Linked DNA regions of Homo sapiens: region 1 is linked to region 2. The links come from fine-mapping of genetic effects on gene expression. A gene starts in region 2. The other region holds a variant in brackets. All regions are shown on one strand. Distances are between the middles of the regions.

Evidence for each region. PIP is the estimated chance that this variant, and not a neighbour inherited with it, causes the effect.
Region 1: its variant is the best candidate, but not a certain one, in a credible set for the expression of MNDA in blood mononuclear cells (TOPMed, PIP 0.87).

Annotation. Positions count from the first base shown.
Region 1 is chr1:158,882,717-158,887,121 of GRCh38, forward strand. No RefSeq gene overlaps it. Among named protein-coding and RNA genes, the nearest start is that of PYHIN1, 47 kb to the right of the region's middle. RefSeq lists an enhancer at 3,711-4,210. The variant C/A (reference allele first, on the strand shown) is at 2,099.
Region 2 is chr1:158,829,198-158,833,602 of GRCh38, forward strand. It overlaps MNDA (myeloid cell nuclear differentiation antigen), which reads left to right and starts at 2,154. Exons shown (of 7, transcript NM_002432.3): 1 at 2,154-2,360. It also overlaps a transcript of OR6N1 not described here.

The DNA.
Region 1 (4,405 bases), 54 kb after region 2:
AGGGTCTAAATAATTAGGTTACGTGCCAATAATTTCATCTCTTTGTACTCTATCCCAACTGGAGCTCATAATTTTACTTTGGATTTTGATATATTTACTTTGTATAATGAATTGTACTACCAAGGTTGAATTCTAGTTGTGACGTGCAATAAGTATAATAAATGGATTGGCTAACTTTCTCCTAAGTGCAAATACTTTCAGCAGCTATGCATATGATCTAAACATTTGTGCTGTCTCCCTTCTGTCTTATTTACTTATTTATTTATGAAGATAGTATTGAATAAAAATTTTGAATTCCATGATACTTAGAAGATAAGGTAATCGAATCCTCTCATTTACAAAGTAATAATAATAATAATAATTAAAAGGCACAGTTTTACTGATATGTCCATGTCCAAATTCAAGGTGACAGCATGACACATTCAATTCCTCCCTAACAGTCCTCAAAAAAATTACAAACTGCTATGAATTCAACTAACATTTCACATGATTGACTGCTTTGTAACCCTACATACATATCTTCTAAGTTAGCCCCTTAAATTTACCTCCAGATTTTCCTACACACTCTATAAGAGATCTCGCATATAAATGGAATTATACAATTGATGAATAATAGCTTCTGTGTGTAAGATACTACAATACAGGAACCATGGATGTAGTCAGGAATGAAAAATGGCACAATATCAAGTGTGAGGAAGGAGATAAGTTTTGATTATTCTGCTTTCATCTAAGAACAATTGACTACAAGCTAAAATTGATTTGTAGAATTCACATTTTTATCAAGGTGGGAACTGGATAGAGGAACATTAGTTTGCCAAAGAAGTAAATGATTTTGTTTAGGCTTCAGGAACACTAGATTCCTATCCTGTTACTCAGACAGTCCAGCAGGTGGGAGGAAAATCCAAACAATGTCCTTGCACTCATTTCTACGTAGAAGAGTTTTTAATGATATTAAGGAAATAGTATTCTTATAAGCTTCAAAGGAATATTCAAAAGGATTATAATACTTGTGCTAAGTAATAAAGTATTTAAAGAAATTAGGATGACAGGGAAGTAATTTCATATAGTGTTCAAGAGAAAGGGTTATGAATAAGACAAATCTGATTTGAATCCTGAATTCAACACTCATTAGTTGATTGATATTGGGGAAATAGTTTCACTGATCCTCTAAAATAATGGAAGTCTCCACTTCATCAGCATGGTTAAAATATTAAGTGAGACAATGCGTATTTATGCATATAAGTTTACATATATGTAAAATTTATATAACATATCTCACTGCCTAGTACATCATGAGAAATTAATCTATGGTAAGCACTACTTTTCCTATCACGGCAAAGATATTGGAAGGGGATCTAAGCAATGAAAATGACACACGCAAATGCTCTAAAGTGTGAAACTGCACTGTGAGTTCTGTACAACTAAAATTCTATAAAGAGTTTCTATGAAGAAACTATGGAAAGATGCAGCACAGAATAAAAATTGGGGGCGGGGGCAGGTGGTAGAGTATAGCTGTTTGTCAGAAATAAAGAAACAGAAAATTCATTGTGAAAAACAGATAAAACCTAAAGATTTTATGCAGAAGAATGTCTGATCACATTGACACTTTAGCAAAAAAAAAAAAAAAAGGTATTATGGTAACAATTCTAGAAGTATGCATTAGAGAGGCATTAGGTTAGAGCAGAGATATCAATTAGAAGCAATGATGTGCCCAAGTCAGCTCTCACCAGAACACTTATTGCTAAGTATTTGGGGATTTTATGAACTGTTTGTAAAATCTTTGGAAGTTTGAAACTAGCATAGTGGAAATATTTAGGCCAGCAAAATATGCAAAGGCTACAAATAGATATTTTCTAAAATTGGGCAGCTAGTTTACCAGGACACCACGAAAGGTTTCTTCAGATTTCTATTTAAGAAGGAGAAAGACAAACAGGGCTGTGATGAATGGAGTAAAATATTTTTTGAAGCTATATCCTCATGATTGTGTGACTAATTAAGTGATGATGTTGAGAAAGATAAAAGATTTAAGGAGCATTCAAAGATGATTCAAGAATATTATCCAGGCAACTGTATAAATGGTGCTACTGTTCACTAACAT[C/A]AAGAAAGCAGAGAACAGCACAGTCTAGGAAGTGAAAACATGTTGTTTGGACAAGTTGACTTTGAGCTACCTGTTGGATATCTAAGAAATATCTCTCTATCAATCTGAAGATATATAGATCTGTATAAACAGATCTGGAACAAAAAAAGTAATTTTGTACTGGCGAGTTATGCATTTGTACATTTAGAGATACATGTTAAAATTATGGGTTTAGATGATATTATCTAAAATAATTGTATAATTCTACATTTATACTAATAGAAAACTGAGCACTCACTATGTTTGGGGAAGTGAGACAATAATGAAGCTATAATAATTATTCCCATATCATAGATAAAGATACCGATGCTCAGAAAATGTAAGCAATACACACCAATTGAAACAACCAGTTAGTGGTGGAACTGACATTCCAGCCCAGGCTGTGTAGATTTAGAATGCAGATTCTTAAGCAAGGTGAATGAGAAGATCAAACTGCCATAGGTGGAGCCATAGAAAAGTTGGATATATATTTGGGGGTGACTACAAGTAAAGGATGCTACAAATGAGGATGAAACTATGTACACAGAGAGGTCAAAGATAAAGTGGAAATATGTATAATATGCATCAAAAATAAGTTTAACAAGGAAGAGGGTCAACACAGCTCATGTCAGACTCAAATAAACAAGGAAGTCTTGGAATAACTTCATCTTAGACCAAAAATTGCTATACTTTAGTGAAAGGCAATTGCTGATTCACAGAAGAAAACATGGCTGGCTCTCCATAACATCATACTAAATATCTCATTCTCCAAAAGCACACTAACGACAAGCACAAAGGTTCACAATAGGAGCCTTGATAACACTAACCAAAGTTAAATTTAAGTACAAATGATTAAAATGGAAATAGTGACATAATCAGGCACACAGACATATATATGCACGTAAATCGTTCCACATCTCAGATTCCCTAATTCAATAATCCTTTCATTTCAATTGAAACAACCATAGTTGTACTGTGAAAAACCTTACCTAATATCCTCCTGCCAACATTCTGCCTAATTAAAATCTTCCCTGAATGTTTTGCACTGAGTAAATAAGCTATTCCCTGTCACCTGTGGTACTGCCTTACTGCCTTTGTTTAACTCCTGCTCTGTTTAAATGTACCCATAATGGGCATGAGAGCATATCTCTATTCAGACTCCAGACCACAGCTGGGAGCAAGCAGACTCAAAAGATGGTAATACGTCAAAGGAGATTGCTGAGAGAGAAGCAATGACCATTGAGATTGGAGTAAAAGAATAATGTAGCCGAGGAGGAGGAGCCAAGATGGCCGAATAGGAACAGATCGGGTCTACAGCTCCCAGCATGAGCGACGCAGAAGACGGGTGATTTCTGCATTTCCATCTGAGATACCGGGTTCATCTCACTAGGGAGTGCCAGACAGTGGGCGCAGGTCAGTGGGTGTGTGCTCCGTGTGCAAGCCGAAGCAGGGCAAGGCATTGCCTCACTTGGGAAGCACAAGGGGTCAGGGAGTTCCCTTTCCGAGTCAAAGAAAGGGGTGACGGACGCACCTGGAAAATCGGGTCACTCCCACCCAAATACTGTGCTTTTCCGACCGGTTTAAAAAATGGCGCACCATGAGATTATATCCCGCACCTGGCTCGGAGGGTCCTACGCCCACGGAGTCTCGCTGATTGTGAGCACAGCAGTCTGAGATCAAACTGCAAGGTGGCAGTGAGGCTGGGGGAGGGGCACCCGCCATTGCCCAGGCTTGCTTAGGTAAACAAAGCAGCTGGGAAGCTCCAACTGGGTGGAGCCCACCACAGCTCAAGGAGGCCTGCCTGCCTCTGTAGGCTCCACCTCTGGGGGCAGGGCACAGACAAAAAGACAGCAGTAACCTCTGCAGACTTAAATGTCCCTGTCTGACAGCTTTGAAGAGAGCAGTGGTTCTCCCAGCACCCAGCTGGAGATCTGAGAACAGGCAGACTGCCTCCTCAAGTGGTTCCCTGACACCTGACCCCTGAGCAGCCTAACTGGGAGGCACCCCCAGCAGGGGCACACTGACACCTCACAAGGCAGGGTATTCCAACAGACCTGCAGCTGAGGGTCCTGTCTGTTAGAAGGAAAACTAATAAACAGAAAGGACATCCACACCAAAAACCCATCTGTACATCACCATCATCAAAGACCAAAAGTAGATAAAACCACAAAGATGGGGAAAAAACAGAACAGAAAAACTGGAAACTCTAAAAAGCAGAGTGCCTCTCCTCCTCCAAAGGATAGCAGTTCCTCACCAGCAACGGAACAAAGCTGGATGGAGAATGACTTT
Region 2 (4,405 bases):
TGCAAATTTCTGCAGCTGGCATGAATTTCTCCTCAGAAAATGGGATTTTCTTTTCTATTGCATTATTAGGCTGCAAATTTTCCAAATTTTTATGCTCTGTTTCCCTTTTAAAACTGAATGCCTTTAACAGCACTCAAGTCACATCTTGAATGCTTTCCTGCTTAGAAATTTCTTCCATCAGATACCCTAAATCATCTCTCTCAAACTCTAAGACACACATCTCTAGGTCAGGGGCAAAATGCTGCCAGTCTCCTTGCCAAAACATAACAAGAGTCACCTTTGCTCCAGTTCCCAACAAGTCCCTCATCTCCATCTGAGACCACCACAGCCTGGATCTTATTGTTTCTGTCACTATCAGCATTTTTGTCAAAGCCATTCAACAAGTCTCTAGGAAGTTCCAAACATTCCCACATTTTCTTGTCTTCTTCTGAGCCTTCCAAACTGTTACCTGCTACCTGTTACCCAGTTTTAAAGTTGCTTCCACATTTTCTGGTATCTTTTCAGCAATGCCCTACTCCTGGTACCAATTTACTTTATTAGTCTGTTTTCATGCTGTTGATAAAGACATACCCAAGACTGGGCATTTTACAAAAGAAAGAATCTTATTGGACTTAATGTTCCACATGGCTGGGGAAGCCTCACAATCATGGTGGAAGGCAAGGAGGAGCAAGTCACATCTTACGTAGATGGCAGCAGGCAAAGAGAGAGCTTGCTCAGGGCAACTCCCATTTTTTAAAAACTATTTTAAAACGATCAGATCTCATGAGACCCATTTACTATCATGAGAACAGCATGGGAAAGATCTGCCCCCATAATTCATTCATCTTCCACCAGGTCCCTTCCACAACACGTGGGAATTATGGGAGCTACAAGATGGGATTTGGGTGGGAACACAGAGCCAAACCATATCAGGGCAGAAAGCTGTCCTGAAACATGGTAACTCCTGTCGTGAGCTCTTTTGGTTCCCAAACACTGAAGTGGGGCACCTGATAAGGTTTCCTTGTGTTCCTCTTTACCCTTTACCTTAAGACCTGCTCGAAGCATCAGCATAAGAGAGAAACTGAAACAATGAACACCCACATGTGTTAGTGGCTGTCATTCTAGATCCTCTTGGTTTTTTCTGATTTACCCTGCTTTAGTGGGGTTTAGACAGTTTCCAAATCCAAACTTTAACTCTCTCTATGCTGCTGGTTTGGATTAAGACAATCAGCTTTATTCTTCTCTGTAGATGGCCTTGGATCATTTTCCCCTATTAGCTGTTTTGGGATCCTTTTCCAGTCATGACCACATTTTGCTTACAGATCAGCTAGTTGGTAACCACAGCACTGTCTGCTAACTGATACCATTCATTTGACAATTCAGAGTTATGATACTTTGTAGTGCACCCACTGTTCTTCACAGGAAAAAAAAATTGCAGTACAAAGGGTTTATCAGGCCCCCTATCATTCCAGAGTTTCAGTGCTGTTCCAGAATGTTCAAGGTTTCAGTCATGATATGAACCAACTATCCATAAATAATGCAAAAAGCATGAGTAATCATGAATTTAATAATCAAGGTAAGGCAGCTCAGTTATTATACTCAAGAGAGCAACTAGTATGAAACTCTTTCAAATTATTTGAATAAGGATTTACATATTCATAATGACTTTCTGCCTCTGTCAAGCTCCAGGTGTATCAGTTATTAATAACTGGGTGAATATGTAGGTACTATTTAAACAAAAACAATTTCACAGTAGACCCACCCCTATCCAAGAGATGAAGTCAAGTTCTGGTAGCAATAGACATCTCTACCAAGATCTCCTGCTCCTGCCACTCTGTGAACAGGAAAGGAGGGAGAAACTTTGGTGTTTTGCCTTTCCCAATTTATATTAAGATCCTTATTCAAGCGGCTACCGGTTTCTAATGACCTATATGTAAGTTAGCTTTATAAGAAAGTTCTGAGTTTGAAACTCCTTTCAGCAAGTATTTGTAAGTCAAAAAAGCGAAGAAGAGGCACCATTTACTGTCATTTCTCCTTGTGACTGAGATTACTTACTACAAAGAGGAACTGACCACTTTCTCTGACATCTGAAATAGAAAGCTACAAAGGCTGATAGGCGTGGCTTCAAAATTGTTTCATGATTACATAACTTCTTTCTAGTTAGGAATTAGGACAGTGTAAGAAGGCCATCTACAATCAAGATTGAGAGTGGCTCTAACAAGTGCCATTTTTCCTTGTTAGCTTTCATTTCTCAGCCCTTTACAAGATTAAAATAGTCTGCAGTTTAATCTCTCCAAAGCTTTACGGACAGTGATTCTGTCCTAAACAAGACAGTGACTCCAGGATTTCTGAAGACTATTGTGGAAGAAGCATCCATTAAGGTGAGATTTCTGGGAAGTTCTTTAGAGAAAGATCTAGGTATCTAGTTGGTAACCACACCATCTCAGTAGAGAATAATTGCCTGAGACCAGAAGTGTTGTTATCAATCATATTCAGAAAACTGAGAACTGAATGCTTTAACTGTCTAGGTAGCAAATGGATATCTTTTATTCTACCACAATTGGGGTATGAACCAAAAAAATGTATTTTGTCTACAGCAGGTTTTAAAAATTAATTCTTGGGTGTCTTTTGGCATAAATTGATATTTAGAGGAGATACTTGGTTTTCTTGGCTGGAGGATGACTTGGTGACTGGGTTTGGGCCTAAGTTAAAAGACAAGACAGTCAGATAAGAAAATTATTATGAAGTAATATTTAGTAAAAAATAAACCAGGATATAAATCTCTATTATATGATTTTATCTCTATTTTAAAAAGCATAGACATGTGCACACATTAATTTCTCAATTTTACAAGCATTTACTCAAAAATAATCTTTACATTTTCATGAATCAGTTTCATTTTATGCTTCATTTTACAACAAGTGTAAGAAGAAATAATTCTCTTTTTCAAATGGTCTATGCTTTACTCAGTCATAGATAACATTTTTTGTGGCAAGGTATAATGAAAAGACAGGGAGAATCAATTATATATTTCCTACTTTGGGATACATTTTGACTTTTTTATGGCTTTGTACATATGAATGTTTTCTAATTACTCCATGAGTACTTGAGAAGAGTTTATAAACGTTGGATTCCAAATTCTATTTAAGTAAGATAAAGTTTCTTAAGTAAGCTTGTTAATTATGTTTGAAAAATCTAAATCTAAATCTAAGCTATTTTTTACCTTGTTCTTTCAGTAACTGAGAGATGTGGTGAAATCTCCAACTCTAATAGTGATTTTGTTAATTTCTCATTGTAGTTCTTTTGATTTCTACCATATATTTTTACATAGAATATGTATATCTAAGTATATATGTTATGTGTGTGTTTAGAGAGAAGAAAAAACTTCTATATGCTACTTTATAAAGTAATAACAGATTATATTTATAATATAATTTAAATTATTATATCTTTTTCCAAGTTGCATACTTTACCATTATGTAGTGAAACTATGTACTGATACTTATTGACTTAAGCCTATTTTAAGCTACACTATTTTTCCTAAAAAGTCTTTCTTTAAGTTAGAGTTTGAAGAATATAACTTTTCCAGCTCTTTCTCAAACTTAAGTGAACTTATGCTTTATTTGTACTTTGTCAACAACATATGACTGGATTTATTTTTAATCCAAATTGAAAATTTTTCCTCCTAGTTGATGAGTTTAGTCCAGATATGCAAATTCTATAAAGGTATATATTTTAACTTGGTTTTGCCATCTTACTTTGTTTCAATTTATAGCACTTATTCTGTGCTTTCTTCTTCTCCTTTCTTGTCAAGTTTCTTATTTTTAAAAAATCTATATTCTCCTTAAAGACAAGCCCCTTAGCAAACTCTCACATCTTCTGGTCCCCCAAACATACAACTTCACCTGTTAAGAGTATGTTCATATAGTTCCTGTTTTCTTTTATTTGACTCTGGCTTTACTTATTTTTAAGATAGTAAAAACACTAATTAAAGTATTTGCTTGATCTTTCTTCCCTTTTGGCCTCCAACATTTCTTAGATTTATTTCTTTTCATAATGAGTAGTTCTTCACAAAGAGCTGTGGGTATGGATATTTTCACTGCCAAGCTTCTGAAAGCTTTGAATATAATAATTGTTTTCTTTTAATTGTGTTAAGAAACATGTAACATAAAATGTGTCATCTTAATCAGCTTCAAGTGTACAGTTCAGTAGTATTAAATACATTCATATTGTTGTGCAACCAACCTCCAGAACGCCTTTGCATCTTGCAAAACTAAAACTCTAACCGTTAACCAACAATTTCACCATTCCCCTTTCCTCCAGAGCTTGGCAAACATCATTCTACCTTCTTTCCCCATAAATTTAAAAACTCTAACTCTTCATATATGTTTAATCATACAGTAAGCGTGTGCTTTTTGTGACTGGC